2 linked regions of the Homo sapiens genome follow. The protein of the gene in region 2 interacts with the protein of the main gene of each other region in a pairwise test. Each region holds a gene or a part of one and is shown on either strand. Other genes may lie near its edges.

Region 1 (7,628 bases), on a different chromosome or scaffold from region 2:
TTTTATAGCCAGAAATTTGGCTTTAAGATTTTTTGAAAAGTACTACTTATTACATTTTCTATTAATATGCAATATCAACATATTCTAAGCCCATAAAATGATCTGGCTTTCTTTAAGGTTCCTTTCAATAATAAAATATTCAAATATCTGTTATGTTGTTGATCAACTGTAGAATACTAACTGTATATCACTCTTAGGCTGTTCAACAGAACCTAGGAACTGGCAGAAACTAATCTAAAACTGACTTCTCCATTGTAATCTCAAGAGCCTCCCTCAGTGCACATACCATAAAAAAGCAATCTACCACCTATGACTCTTAATTTTTAATTTTTTTTTATACCGAGTCTCTCTCTGTCGCCCAGGCTGGAGTGCAATGGCGCAATCTCGGCTCACTGCAACCCCCACCTCCCGGGTTCCAGCAACTCTCCCTGCCTCCGCCTCCCGAGTAGCTGGGATTACAGGCACCCGCCACCACGTCTAGCTGATTTTCTTGTATTTTTAGTAGAGACGAGGTTTTGTTATATTGGCCAGGCTGGTTTCGAACTCCTGACCTCTGGTGATCCACCCGCCTCGGCCTCCCAAAGCACTGGGATTACAGGCATGAACCACCACGCCTGGCTTTAATTTTTAATTTCTATCACAGAACAAACGTTTGCCACTGGAGGCTGCCAAACTGTTTCTATGACTGTCTCTCTTAGCTATTTTCAGATACTGCCAAGGCATAATGTGTGAGGACTAATACGATTCTTTGTACTAATACTTTGTTTTCTTCAGTGGCAGTTCAGACAGGGTACAAAAGCTGATCTTTTAGCTGGGTAAGGTCTATATTAAAAATTTAAACCTGTACAGGATTTCTAATCACTTAACACATTTTAATACCAATGGGGGAAAAGCTTGAACTAGGTATAAAATGCTGTCTAAATCCTTGATTTAAAAAAAATTTACTTCGCTTGGCCTGTTTAAATACTGTACTTTGGCCCTGTTCTCTTGTCCCACGTGTGCTTAAGTAAACAAAAATGTATTAACCATTTCAGTTGATATAAGTAGGCAGACACCTTGTGTTCACATTTATGTAACCAGAAGCAAAAACTCTGTAAGCTATGTATTTACTTGGTTGGATTAAATGTGTATATATACACAGAAGTACAAACAACTAAGAAATAAATTACATAATTCAACACCAAAAATCTCCTATTTCTTATCCCTATTCCAATGAACAAACTACAAACCAAAGCACTTCTAAAATATCTTCCAGCTATCAAGCACTGAAATCAGAAGTATATATTTTTAAGTGTCAATAAATCTTATACACCTACAGATTAAATTAAGGAGAAAACCAGCTTACTTCCAGACTGCCAACCCTATGACTTTAAGGCTTGGAGGTACTCTCTCCAATAACAGGTCACTTTAGGTCTCTAATTTAATTATTTATTCTTATTGTAGTCACCACTTTTTTTTAAAGCTTAGTATTAATCAGTGCACAACCAGGATGCACAATGTTGCTCAACTGTATGATATACCAACAGGTTCCATGAGTCTGGGGTTTATTAACATAATCCAAAATGTATGCTACAACCACACTGTAAAAAAAGGGCGTCTAAATCAACTACCCTACACAAAGTTCCCTGAAAACAAAGTTCTCTCAAAACAAAGTTCTAAAAATCTTTAACTTGCATAACTGGCACATGGGGGTATAAATCTACAACTCTTCTAAGTTTTTTCTCCTTAGTTCTGCTAAGTGAAAACACAAGTCATTATCAACGTGTACTTGAAAAGAGAAAAAAAAAGAAAAAAGAAACCAGAGACACGCCTGCTGGGTATAGGAGCTCCACCCCCAAAACTCAAGGTGAATATCCTTACCAGTCTTTAATAAGCTCTGCATTCTGGTCTGTTCTCATCCCACATACCTTGTTAATCATGGAAAGCAACTCCGAACTAAAACTGGTTTAAAGAGAGTCCGAGGTGTTGCTTATACGTCTGGACTTCAGAGACTGGAGGGTTGGGACTTTACATGCCCCTAAACGTGGCCTTACGGAGTAATACAGCGAGGGAAAAAAGGAGATCAGTGGCAAAAAAAAAAAAAAAGGGGGCAAGGAAAAGAAAACGGTGAATTACAGAGCCCAAAACTTTAGTTTAGGTCCCAACTTCAGAAATCTCCCTTCCCTGGTGCCCCATCCATCCCAGGAATCAGGAGACTCAAAAAAGGTTAAGGGCCAGCGTTGACCTGTGACAACTAAAACGATTTTGAAAAATCCAGCCAAAGAAACAAAAAAAAAAGGCTGCGAGGAGAAATGGGATGGAAGAAAGATGAATGCTGAGAGCTGGTCTCTGGGGCGCCACCGGGGACCCTGGTTTCGGGGGAAGAACTGGAGGTGCCCGTAGCTGCGGGGGGACGGTGTGTGTGTAGGGGCGGGATGGGCCGTCCCAGGTGCGGCGGCCGAGGCGCGGGGGTCCCGGAGACGAGAAGGCTGGGCAAACTAACCCGGTGCCCAGAGGCCTCCCTGTCCGAAGGGGGTTGTGCTTCAGCTGCAGGGGGTCCTTCCCCTCCCCTTCCAACTCCTCACCCGGGCCGTAGAACTTGCTGCCTTTGGTCACGTCGAAGACTTTCCCATTGACCGCGAGCAGGATGCGCGGGTTGCGGGAGCCGTCGTACTGGCGCAGCTGCTCCAAGCTGAAGTCCCGCTTCTTCATGCGAGGCAGAGAGGTGGCGGGGCTCTCCTCGCCCGCCCCGGCCCCGGCCCCCAGACCCCGCCGCCCCCAGCGCACCCACAGCCGGTAGGCCCCCAGCAGCACCAGAGCCACCAGCGCCACGTTCAGCAGCATTTCCCCGCCCCCCGTCAGAAGCGCCAACGCCGCCGCCGCCCAGCCTCCCCCTTCCGCTGCCGCTCCCGCGTCGCCTGGACTCTCGCTGCCGCCGTCGTTGCTGCTCTCGCTGCCACTCCCCAGGGTGCCTAGCTTCACGTCCCCATCACCAGCCGCCATCACTGCCCGCCAGCGCCTTCCTCCTCCTCCCCGCCCCCTGCCCTCCCCAACCCCACGGCCGGCCCCGCCCATCTGGGGGCCTCTCAGCCAATAACGTGAGAAGAGGGGGCGGGGTCAGGCCGGCTCCTGATTGGGTGTTGACGGGGTAACGTTGTCTCGGATCTCCCGCCCCCTCCCTTCTTTCGCTGGCCGCGCACGCGTGCAACGCCCCGCCCACCTCGCCCCACACTTCCCTGCTCTCACTCCAAGCCTCCGCTAGGTTAAGTAGACGAGCCGGGCGGGTCTGAAGAAAAGATGCTACGACGGCCGCGCGGACGCTCATGGGCGGGGCGAGACCACAGCGCGTGCGCGGGCTCCTGAGCGCCACGCGCTCGCCTTTCGTTCGTAACCCCTGCGGGAGGCACGCCCCGCCCAGTCTCCAGGCTCTGCGCGTGCGCCCTGGAATCGCTTCCCTTCCTAGGCCTGCGTTCGCGTCCGCAAACTCCCGCCTCCTTGCGCTCCCCCCGCCCGGGAGCTTCACGTGCGCCTTGGCGGCCGCGGGGGCAGGTCCGGGCTGGACGCCTGGCGGAGGACGCGGGCAGGTGGCTTGTGGGAGGCTGGGGCATAGTTGAGCTGCAAGGCGCAAACCGATGAGGGGCGTCTGCTTTTCACCAGGGCGCCGTCGCTTTTGTCGGGAAACCGGCAGCGTAGGCGCGCAGACCGGGAAGCGGCAAGAAGATTTGGCCACGAGCTGGGGTCTTCCTGGAACGGAGAGAAAGCACGGAACCCGCACCGGGCTTCTCTGGCATCGGCAGTCTACGTGCTCCTCGCGCTGGCACCGAGCAGCCACTCCCCGCTGGGTTTGGCAAAGGCTGCTCTTGTAGAATTTTAAAGGATTTAGAGTCTCATTATTCCTTGAATCATAACTTCTGCGGCCGTAGGGAAGTGGACAGGTTGAGGTGGTCTTTCTATTCGTCATTCACTCTTATTTGCAGGTTCTGTTTCATGTACTTGGACGTCTTTTAGCCTCTCACACCTTGAAATTCTAGTGTGAAAAAGTGACCTCTGAAGTCTCACGCACTCAACTCGTTTGACGAACTCGTTTGACGTGTTCTCTCTTGCCCTTTGTTGTCTGTTGTCTTGAGTCTCATAGAATAGGTTTGAACCTTTCACTGTCGGTTTTGTAGGAGTCACTGAGGATATTGACGAGGCAAGTGACAGGGTCGACACTCTTGTAGAGAGGCTGTATAGCAACCAGGTGTCTGAAGGATTAGAGGCTGGGGAAAGAGTGGGAAAGCAGTTAGTAGGCTAGGGTATTTGTGCGTGAGGTGAGGAGACTCAGAGCTAGGGGAGACATTAGAGCAGGGGTTGGCAAACATTTTTTGTAAAGGGCCCGATCATATTTTAAGTCTCTGCCTTAACTACTCAGCTCTACCTTGTAACGAGAAAGCAGCCATAGACAATACTTGAATGAGTGTAGCTGTCTTCAGTAAAACTATGGACATTGAATTTTTAATATAATTTCAGGTATGAAATATTCTTTTGATTTTTAAGAAAATCATTGAAATATGTAAATTTTTTTTTTTTTAGTTCTGGAGAGGTGCAAAAACAACTTATAAGCCATATTGCTGAGCCCTGCATTAGAGGTACCTGAGGGAGAGCGACACAATTGGTAGTAAATGACCATATACTCTATCCTTCAATATGGAACACTTTTGGAAGTAAAGTAGGGCATTAATAATTATAGCCAGAGACCAGGAGTTATATCAGTTTTATCCCAGGCAAACCTAAAGGAATAGTCACCTTAAGGTTAAGGGTTAGGAGAAGTCAAAATTGCTTTAGGACTTGGTAACAGAAAATGGGAGGTGCCAGTGATGGAAATAGGAAGATAAAGAAGAAACTGGTTTTGAGGAGAAGATAGCTGTAGCAGTCCCAAGAGCTGTATACAGTTGAGACAACATTGATAGGAAGGAAGAAAGCACCCCAGAAGCAGGCCACTCCTTATATCTTATTGACCAGAACTGGGCTATTAGCTGTCCCTAAAGCAGTAACAGACAAGGAGCATGGGACATCCATGATTGCCTAGTGTTTATCTGGCTTTTTTAATTCTTATTCAGGACTGTGTTGAGCATTGCTGGACATTTACCATCTCTGGTTCCTTCCAGCTAAATGTCAGTACCACACCTCAGGCATTGTGACACCGTAAATCAACCGTTTTTCCCTCCCACCCCCCAGAGGTGTGGTACTGGTTGAGAACCAGTAGCTTAGACCCTCAGGATTTACCTTGGGGCTGAATTAGTGTGTGTAGGTTTCTTTTCCAGTTGGTTTGGAGGGAAGAGAGGAATTGGACAGTATTAAAGTTCTGCTGTCAAGGAAGTGGGCTGGGGAATGTTGGGTAGCTAACCAACATTGGCTGCCACGTGAAGTAAAAAAGTTTTCCTTTATATCCTTGATAAAATAGTGTCTCGACTTCTTCACACTTGAAGCCTTCCCAAAACCCCAGCTTTTTTGATTCTCATTGTAAGCCCCTTGAACTGGACTAGTTGGAAGTTCTTATTTTCCACCCTAAGTAACAAGCTCTTGTCCCAATAGGATACTCTTGCTTTGAGTACTGCAATAACTTTCCAATTGGTGACTTGCCGTCAGTCTTTTCCTATTTCATTCCTACACGAAGAGACTAGAACTGTGTTCTGATTTCCTTTGCTCAGACACCAATCTCCAGGGGTGCTCTGTAATTTGAAGAGGACAACTCAGAAAGCACTCAAGGGCCTCCATAAGTCCCTGAGTGGCTTCCCTGCCTTCCCGTTCCCCAGCAAACAATCCCTTGGATACCCTCTATTAAATGATACGTTTCCCCTTACAATACCTAGTCCCTTGCCCCATATATGCTATGTGTATTGCACAGTCTAGGACTTGACTCATGCTGTTTCCTCACGGAGCATGCCCTTCTTATTTCTAACCATACAAATTCCATGACCTATCCATTCTTTCAATTCTACTTCCACCTGAGGCCTCTATCAGCCCACATTAACCTACCTTCTTTGAATTTCTGTGTGTTCCTTACCTGTACCACCCATTTTGGCCTTTTATTTTATGCTCTTCTTGACTATTCTGTTATTGAAACTGTCCTTTAGATCCCAAGATTTCTACTTTTTCCCTGCGGATGCTTTTTTATTTTTTTTATTTTTGACTTCTTTCTACCCTCCTTTTCCTCTTACATCCCTGCTTTGCCTAGAGGACATCTACAAGAATCGTCATGTACATTCTTTTCTCCTGTTGTTAGCTTTTTTCCCCTGACACTTCATCTATTTACTGATTTACTTGTAAATCTCTGGAAGATATTAGTACTAGCCACCAAATATTTCTATTTCTTTTTCCACACACGTAGATTTGGATTTCCCTACTCCTTTTACCTCAAGAATGGCCAATGAAATGTGATTGGAAGTGACTTGTGTCATTTCCAAATAAAAGCTTTAAGAGCCTGTGGACATTTATCCTGCGCTGTTTCTTCCTGCCAACAGTGATGAAATATTTTAATTATCTATTGTCCCATGACAAAGCACCTTAAATCTTAATGGTTTAAAACAGTCACCATTTTATTATGTGTAACAGTTTTGTGGGTTGACTAGGCTCATGGGCAGTTGTCTAATCTTGCTCAGGGTCTCTCATGTGGTTCCAGCCTGGTATTGTTTGGGGCTGGAGTTTTTGGAGGCTCAACTAGGTTGCTAGAGTAGCTGAGCTTTTCTATTTACCCATGCCGTTCCAAAGACTCTCTGATTCACATGGCTTCTTCAGCAGAGTAGCCTGACTTCTTTCTTGCATGGTGGCTTAGGATTCTCAAATGCAATAAAAGCAAAAACTTCGAGGTTTTGTAAGTCTTAGGTCTGGAAATGACATGTTGTATTGGTAAAAGCAGTTACAGGGCCAGCTCAATTTTAAGGGGAGAGGAAATAAACACTTGATAGGGGTGGAGGGAGAGTGACAAAGAATTTGTGGCCATCTTTATTACAAAAATTTTTGTCAACCACAGAGTTACAGGAAAATGTGGCCATCTTTAATCACTACTCCAACGATGTTTCAAATTGAGTGGGCTTCCATCAGCCAGGGTCTCGGAGACAGGACAAAGTGGAAAACAGCTCCCAAATAACATACCTAGGTATATGAATAAGAAATACATCTCTGCTGTCCTGAGTCACTTAGCTATTTGGAGTTGTTTGGTATCAACTTTTGCATACTAATATAAAAATTGGTACTGGAAATAGGGTGGTGCTATAACAAAAATCTAAAATATGAGTCACTGACATATATAATAATTGAGTTAGAAATACTAGTGGTTGGTTGTTAGGCAGCATCCAGCTTTGACTCACTTATGCATTTCCCAGTGAACCTAGCTCAGAAGTTTGCACCATGATATTCAATAAATAATTCTTAAATAAGAGAGATTGTTTCTTGTAATTTTTCCCTATTTTAGGGAAAAACTTTTTTTTTTTTTCCATATCACATTTTTCTTGAAACATTGGAGTGCCACGAACATATCATTTGATGCTCTGTTTGAGTGCCACCAGTGAGTTTCCCGATGTTTAAGTTTGGCTCGTGGGCAGCCCACCTTCTTCCTCTCCACTTTCTCTTGGGAGCCATCCTGCTCATGGAAAGTGTGCTTTCTCCTC
Region 2 (7,595 bases):
TGCTGGTGCTGGTCCTCCGCATGCTGAGTGCCGGTCCCCTGGGCCCACTGTTCTTTCTCTATACTCTGTCTCTGTGTCTTATTTCTTTTCTCAGTCTCTCGTCCCACCTGATGAGAAATACCCACAGTGTGGAAGGGCTGGCCTCCTTCAGTTCTGAATCAAGGCAATCATGGTAACAGTGACAATGAAGAGGATACTGTTACCACTACAGAAAAAGTGCCTATAGACAGCACGGTGAGGATGTGGGAGGGGATTACTGTGGCACTAGAGCAGCATACATTCATAACGGAACAAGAAATCAGGCAGTTTATAGAATCCAAGAGAGACTTCTAAGATAGAAACCACAGTTAATGAGGCAAATGACTCTGGAGGAAACATTTTAAAAAGCCATCCAGCAGAACACTTCCTCATCCCTAGAGGACCCGCTTCCTGTCCTTCAACTGCTTCTAATGTTTCTTCTCACCTTAAAAAAATAAAATATGGTGTCCAGTAACCTTTTCACCAAAACAGCTGAAGACTGACAGCCTGCCGTTTTTGTTGCTGCTGCTATGGTTCAGAAGCTGATACAGGTGTTCTGGTGATCTGCTGTGCTGCTTAGTTACCCTGAACACACAATTTCTCACTGTATTAGTGGTATATCATGTTTTATACTGTTAAGTACTTCTGTGTGAATAGGTATAAGAAAATGACTGCTTCTTGGTAGCATATACATTCAGAGTCAGGAACGATGGGGACGCTAACCAACCAGATTGTCCACGTGTGGCTGAGACAGTGACATCTTTGCTTTCTGATGGATCAATGAACACAAACTTTGTTTCATGCACACCATTGAAAATACTGTATAAAACTGCCTTTAAGGTATGTGTATAAAGTATATATGAAACATAAACGAATTTCATGTTTAGACTTGAGTCTGATCCCCAACAAATCTCATTATATACATGAAGATATTCCAAAATCCAAAAAAAATTCCAAAATCCAAAACACTTCTGGTTGCAAGCATTTTGGATAAGGGATATTCAATCTGTATAGGCAACATGTTGGTGACATCACATGAAAACAAAAACTACTGACCCAAGCTCCAAATGCATTCCAAAAATACGGCCAACAAGCCGGGCGCAGTGGCTCACGCCTATAATCCCAGCACTTTGGGAAGCTGAGGCGAATGGATCACCCGAAGTCAGGAGTTCGAGACCAGCCTGGCCAACATGGTGAAACTCTGTCTCTACTAAAAATACAAAAAATTAGCGGGGCAGGGTGGCACATGCCTGTAATCCCAGCTACTTGGGAAGCTGAGGCAGGAGAATCGCTTGAACCCGGGAGGAGGAGGCTGCAGTGAGCTGAGATTGTGCCACTGCACTCCTGCATCCCAGCCTGGGTGACAGTGAGACTACGAGTCTGGAAAAAAAAAAATAGAGATGGGGGTCTCCCTATGTTGCCCAGGATGCCTCAGCCTCCCAAAGTACGAGGATTAAAGGCGTGAGCCACCGTGCCCGGCCCAGTTTTCTCAGTCTTAATGGTAAAGGTGTAAACAGGAAGCTCCTGTTTTCTCAAAAAAATCCAGAGAGGCTCACAAGGGATGTGGCCAGACTGATGCTACGAATGGAAAGCGCTTTTCCTTAGATCTATTAGGTTGGCTCAAATGTAATTGCGGGTTTTCCATTACCTTTAATGGCAATAACGACAAAGAAACCCCGCAATTACTTTTGCACCAGCCTAATAAATATCCCCTGCGAGCAGTAGTGAAAGACAAAGGACAGTGGCAAAAGCCATGGGGCCTCCTCGTGTAGAACATGTAACAATTTCCCTTTTCTGTTCTATTTCCCTCTCTGGGTGGCATGGTACCAAACTGTATTTTTTTTCCTTAAACAATTTTTTAAAAGCTGTACATATTCAGCAGATAGTCACTCTATTATTTACAGCATCATCTGGTATCCCAGAGCATACACAATACCTTCCATTCTTTCCAGGCTCTCCTCTCTCCTTCTCAGGACCAACTATATCTTTTTTTTCTGGAGCTCACCAATTTCCCCTATCCTGGGCAGCTGGCAGTTTTATTCCATCAATTGCATTCTTATGCAATCTTCCACAAAGAGAATAGGGATAAAGGGGAGGGGACGGGATTTGGGATCCAGATGATTGAGACTCAGAAGTCTGTGTGGGGAATGGAGTGCGGCTGCTAGGCTGGTGAGTGGGATGAGGGTCTTCCAGATGTGGGAAGTAAGACTGGGTTACAAAGCACCACTCTAATCACTGGGGAGACCTGCCTGAATTCTACCTAATGGGGCACGAGTCCATACATATATACACATAAGAGCCCAGCGAAAGCAGGGCTGAAAGCAGCAATACGTGAGGCTCCAGGGGTGCAGCTCACCTTTCACGAGCCAGGTGGCCGTGGCAGCTGAAACAGTGGCTTTTGCGTTCCCCACCCCTATGCCCAGCAAGACTGCCTGGGTGGCTAGGGAGCCGGAGAGGCTGGAAGCAAACGCCTGGAGAAGAAAACAAGTAGGGTGAGAAGCGGGCGTAGGAGCGTGGCGGTCTAAGTGCCTTCATCTGTTCTTGTTCTTGGTGTATGAGGCATGTCAGACCCCCCGCCCCCCGGGCTCCGAGTCTCAGTCACCCGTCCATTATTGGGGAGGGAGGAGTGGCCTGCACTGTCCTCTGCCCCAGACGACCGAGCTGACCTGCACGGAATCCCACAGCTGGTAGGGCAAGTAGTCCGGGCTGACGCTATCAGGGAAGCCCTGAGGCAGGAACACGGCCTGGAGCCCGGAGAGGGGCGGTGAGGGGGCCCCGGAAGCCCCCACTTCGCCCGCATCTCGTCCTTCAGGTTTGACCGTGAAGGCCCTGGAGAGCCCCCACCAGCGCCAGCCCCCGACCTCCCACTGCAGGCTCCCGTCCGCGGCGGCGCGGCAGCCCCGTGCCTCCCCGGAGCCGAACTGCTCGGAACACAGCGGGGTCTCCAAACCCGCGTCGTCAGCCATGCCGAGCTTTTGGATCCCAGCCCCGCCCCTGCCGCACGGTGGACGTGGCAGGCGGCACTTCCGGCTGGGCTACCGCGGCTGCAGAGGGACATCTTTCAAGAACAGGCGCCGGCCTCGGCGTCCGCCGCGCAGTTAGGAAACTGACTGTCGCTCTCTCCGGCCTCGGCGCTGCTTCGGACGCCCCGGCACCGGCCCCCGTTGCTTTGTAGCATTCTGCAGCTGGGCTGCAGGCGCCGTGGGCCTCCGCCAGTTGTGTTCGAGACGCGGTTCGGCCACAGAAGTTTTAGCTTGTGACTTTTGGCAAGTCAGTGGCCCTCTCTGGGCCTCAGGTGCCTTTTTTGCTGTGAGACCAGCGACTGTATTTTTAACCCTGATTTTATCCCTAGATCTACCCAACACATAGTAGGTGCTCAAAAGATATTTATGAGTGAATGAATGCATCATGAGAAGAAATTGGACCAGATGAGGCCCTGTGAAGCTGCTTGGGTCTTTTTTTGTTCTTTTTTTTTTCTCTCTTCTGAGTGTCCCTGGCCTGGACTAGAAATTCTCCATCCTTCGGCCTTCTGCGAGACTGCAGGAACATTACTTTTGAAGGATGCTAAGGAATCCGAGGGATGAAAAAAATCAAGAGATTGCAATGATGTCACAAAACAAGGAAACAAGGCAGGAAGTTCTTGTGTGTTTTTTTGCGGGAGAGAGTCCATGAAATTGGGGGGAGTCCAAAGAGGGAGTGTTTCTGTCCTTGGAACTCACCTTTTCTTCTTTCCATTTCTCCTCTTCTCCTTCCCATCTAGTGCAGCATCTTCACTCCGAAGCAGAAATTTGCCAAAAAAGCATCCTCTTTTTATCAGAAAATAAAATATCCTGGTTTCTTAGCCTGGCATTCTTGGATCCCCACAGTTTGATCCCAACCGACAACTCCTTATTTGAAACTTCAGATTCTCCCAAACCGTCACCTTCCTCGTGGACTTAATCCTGGAAGGCCCTTCTACCCCACTTCGCCTTATCTCACACAAACACAGTCTCTCTCTGACTGAGATAAACTTGAACACTTCTTTTCTTTTCTTTTTTTTTTTCTTTAAATTTCGGGTTTCAAAATACAAATGGCCTAATCACAACATTTCTGTAATGTTGTCTAAATTCAGGTACTGGTTTGAATAGAGGACAAAAATAAAACAAGGTTTGAAGACTAAGTACTTTAAAAACATATTTATTTAAATAGAGGCAGGGCCTCCCTATGTTGCCCAGGCTGCTCTCAAACTCCTGGCCTCAAAAGTGATCCTTGGGCTGGGCGTGGTGGCTCACGCCTGTAATTCCAGCACTTTGGGAAGTCGAGCCAGGTGGATCACTTGAGGTCAGGAGTTTAAGACCAGCCTGGCCAACATGTTGAAACCCCATCTCTACTAAAAATACAAAAATTAGCTGGGCGTGGGGGTGGTGTGGCCATAATCCCAGCTATCCGGGAGGCGGAGGCAAGAAAATCGCTTGAACCGTGCAGTTGTCATTAACTCCGTGTTTGTTATCTCTTTTTTACCAATGGTTTGCCAGTTTCTTCTACAAATACCTGTTGCTACCTATGTGCTCATTGGGATAGTGAGCAAAAACAAACAAGGGTCTTGGTCTTTTGGAACTTATATTAGGGAAGGATATTGATCAAATCATACAAATAAATGCAAAGTTGGAACTATTTCAATTGCTGTAGAGGGGTACATGTTATTTAATATGAGGACTTTTAGAAGGAGAATTGAGCTAATCAGTGGAATCAAGGGAAACTTTTTTTTTTGAGATGGAGTCTCCCTCTGTCACCCAGGCTGGAGTGCAGTGGCACAGTCTTGGCTTACTGCAACCTCCACCTCCTGGGTTCAAGTGATTCACCTGCCTCACCCTCCGGAGTAGCTGGGGTTACAAGCATTCACCACCACACCCAGCTAATTTTTGTATTTTTAGTAGAGACGGGGTTTTGCCATGTTGGCCAGGCTGGTCTTGAACTCCTGGCCTCAACTCATCTGCTTGCCTCGCCTCCCAAAGTGCTGGGATTACAGGCATGAGCCACTGTGCCCGGCCAAGGGAAATTTTTTAACAAAAATTTAAGTTGGGGTCTCTCTGTGTTGCCCAGGCCTCCCGCCTCGGTCTTCCAAAATGCTAGGATTATAGGCATGAGCCGTTGAGGCCAGCTGGGAAACTTTTTTTTTGAGGAAGTGTGTATTTAGCTGAGATCTAGAGTAAGAGTTAACTTGATTATGATGGGAAAATAATTTTCTGGAAAGAAGGAGCAGCATGTCCTGAGTGGGGAGGGAGCATGGTACCTAACATCCAACAAAGGCCGGTGCAGCAGAAGTCTAGAGCACGAGGGGCATGGGGAAAGGGCTGCTAGGGAGTTAGGGGCCAAACTGCAGGACATTGTAGGCCAAGCTCTTCTTCATCCTTAGGGTTAAGATTTATTTTTTATTCTATCAGTCAATCAATCAATCGATCGATGAGACAGGGTCTTGCTCTGTCACCCAGGCTGGAGTGCAGTGGTGCAATCATAGCTCACTGCAGCCTCAAACTCCTGGGCTCAAGTGATCCTCTTGCCTCAGCCTCCCAAGTAGCTGGGACTACAGGCATGCACCACCATGCCTGGCCAACTTTTAAAATTTTCTGTAGAGATGGGATCTCACTATGTTGCCCAGGCTGGTCTCCAACTCCTGGCCTCAAGTGATCCTCCCACCTCGGCCTCCCAAAGCTCTTGAGATTAAAGAATATATTGGTATATGTTGGAGTGGCACTTTAGAGAAGTAGTTGAATAAATTTAATTTTTTTTAAAAGACAGGTTCTCTGTCACCCAGAGAGTGCAGTGGTGTGATCACACTACAGTCTCACTACAGCCTCAACTTCCAGGGTTCAAGTGATCTGCCTCAGCCTCCCGAGTAGCTGAGACCACAGGCGTGTGCCACCATGGCTAGCTAATTTTTGTATTTTATTTTTGTAGAGACAGGGTTTTGCCATGCTGCCTAGGCTGGTCTCAAACTCCTGGGCTCAAGTGATCTGCCCACCTCAGCTTCCCAAAGTGCTGGGCTTATAGGCATGAACTGTGCCTGGCAGAAATTTAATGTTTAATTCTTATTTTCCATTTAGCTTATAACACTGTCAATAAATTATCCTTTCAAAATAATTTTGAGTTTCCTGGCACAGTGAAAGATCAAGCATTGTGTTATATTTGAAAGGTTAGCTTCTGTGAGTGGATAGGACTCTGGGGCATCAGAGGGCCTTACTGTGAATGTAGGTTCTGTCCAGGAAGCTGTCCAGGAAGCTGTGAGATCTTGGGCAAGTTACATATCTCTCTGTCTTTCAGTTTCTTCTTCTGAAAGACGAAATGGTAATGGTAAAATGGAAATAATACTAGTACCTACCACACAGAGTTGGAACGAGAATTAAGAGTCATGTCTTGGCCGGGCGCGGTGGCTCACGCCTGTAATCCCAGCACTTTGGGAGGCCGAGGCGGACGGATCACGAGGTCAAGAGATCAAGACCATCCTGGCCAACATGGTGAAACCCCATGTCTACTAAAAATACAAAAATGAGCCAGGTGTGGTGATATGTGCCTATAGTCCCAGCTACTTGGGAGGCTGAGGCAGGAGAATTGCTTGAACCTGGGAGGTGGGGGTTGCAGTGAGCCGAGATTGCGCCACTGCACTCCAGCCTGGGCGACAGAGCAAGACTCTGTCTAAAAAAAAAACAAAAAACAAAAAAGTCATGTCGTATGTGCAAAACTCTTAAAGTATTTAGCACATAGTACATACTGTTTAAGTGTTGGTTCTTATTCAGAGATAATGTCAAGTGTTCAAATGTGAGGCCCTTGGCTCCAAGTGAGGCAGGTGGCCCTCATGACTAGTGTCACTGTATAATTTATTGTGCAAACCAGGACTTTTGAGAGGGTCATTAAAGGAAGCACTGGTAATAATTGTGTTGGGAAAACAGGTCTGCGGGAAAACAGGTCTGCAGTGAAGCTGTCTCAGGCAAATGGGAATATATGGTCACATTATTTATGAACCCACTGCAGCTCTACTGCTTACCATTGTCCACCTTGACATCTCCTTACTCAGAGACTATGACAGTCCCTGTTCGTTGTAGCATTTACTTAACTCTTAGCCTATGCTGTCTGGAGCCAGTTTGTATTTGCTTTTGTTAGGTACAGATGTCCTGTCTTCCCAAGTGGACTGTAAGTGCCTGAGGGCAAGGACCCATCATACACTTCCCTGTGACCTGAGTGTGCAGATAGGTGGCTTGACAAAGAGATGAGTGATAGTTCCCCTTTCTCTATGGCTGACTGCCACCGTCACTACTTGAAACCCTCATTATGATAGTTACTACTGTTACTGTTTGAGACCTTCACTACGACAGTTACTACTGACTACTTGAGACCTTCACTATGACAGTTACTACTGTTAGTACTTGAGACCGTCATTATGACAGTTGCTGTTACTACTTGAGACCATCAGTACAACAGTTACTATTGTTACTACTTGAGACCATCATTATGACAGTTACTACTGTTACTACTTGAGACCGTCATTATAACAGTTACTGCCATTACTCTTTAACACCCTCATTACAAGACTGAATGAAGGG

What was found.
Region 1: the proteins of RUSF1 (region 2) and PGRMC2 interact in binary tests that used the Homo sapiens proteins (3 or more experiments, as listed by UniProt).

The regions. Positions count from the first base shown.
Region 1 is NC_000004.12:128,284,809-128,292,436, forward strand, and holds the start of PGRMC2 (membrane-associated progesterone receptor component 2), read right to left. Parts: upstream 3,006-7,628; 5' UTR 2,983-3,005; coding exon 2,565-2,982; intron 1-2,564. UniProt on the Homo sapiens protein: Required for the maintenance of uterine histoarchitecture and normal female reproductive lifespan. May serve as a universal non-classical progesterone receptor in the uterus.
Region 2 is NC_000016.10:31,505,390-31,512,984, forward strand, and holds the start of RUSF1 (RUS family member 1), read right to left. Parts: upstream 3,003-7,595; 5' UTR 2,985-3,002; coding exon 2,685-2,984; intron 2,490-2,684; coding exon 2,375-2,489; intron 1-2,374.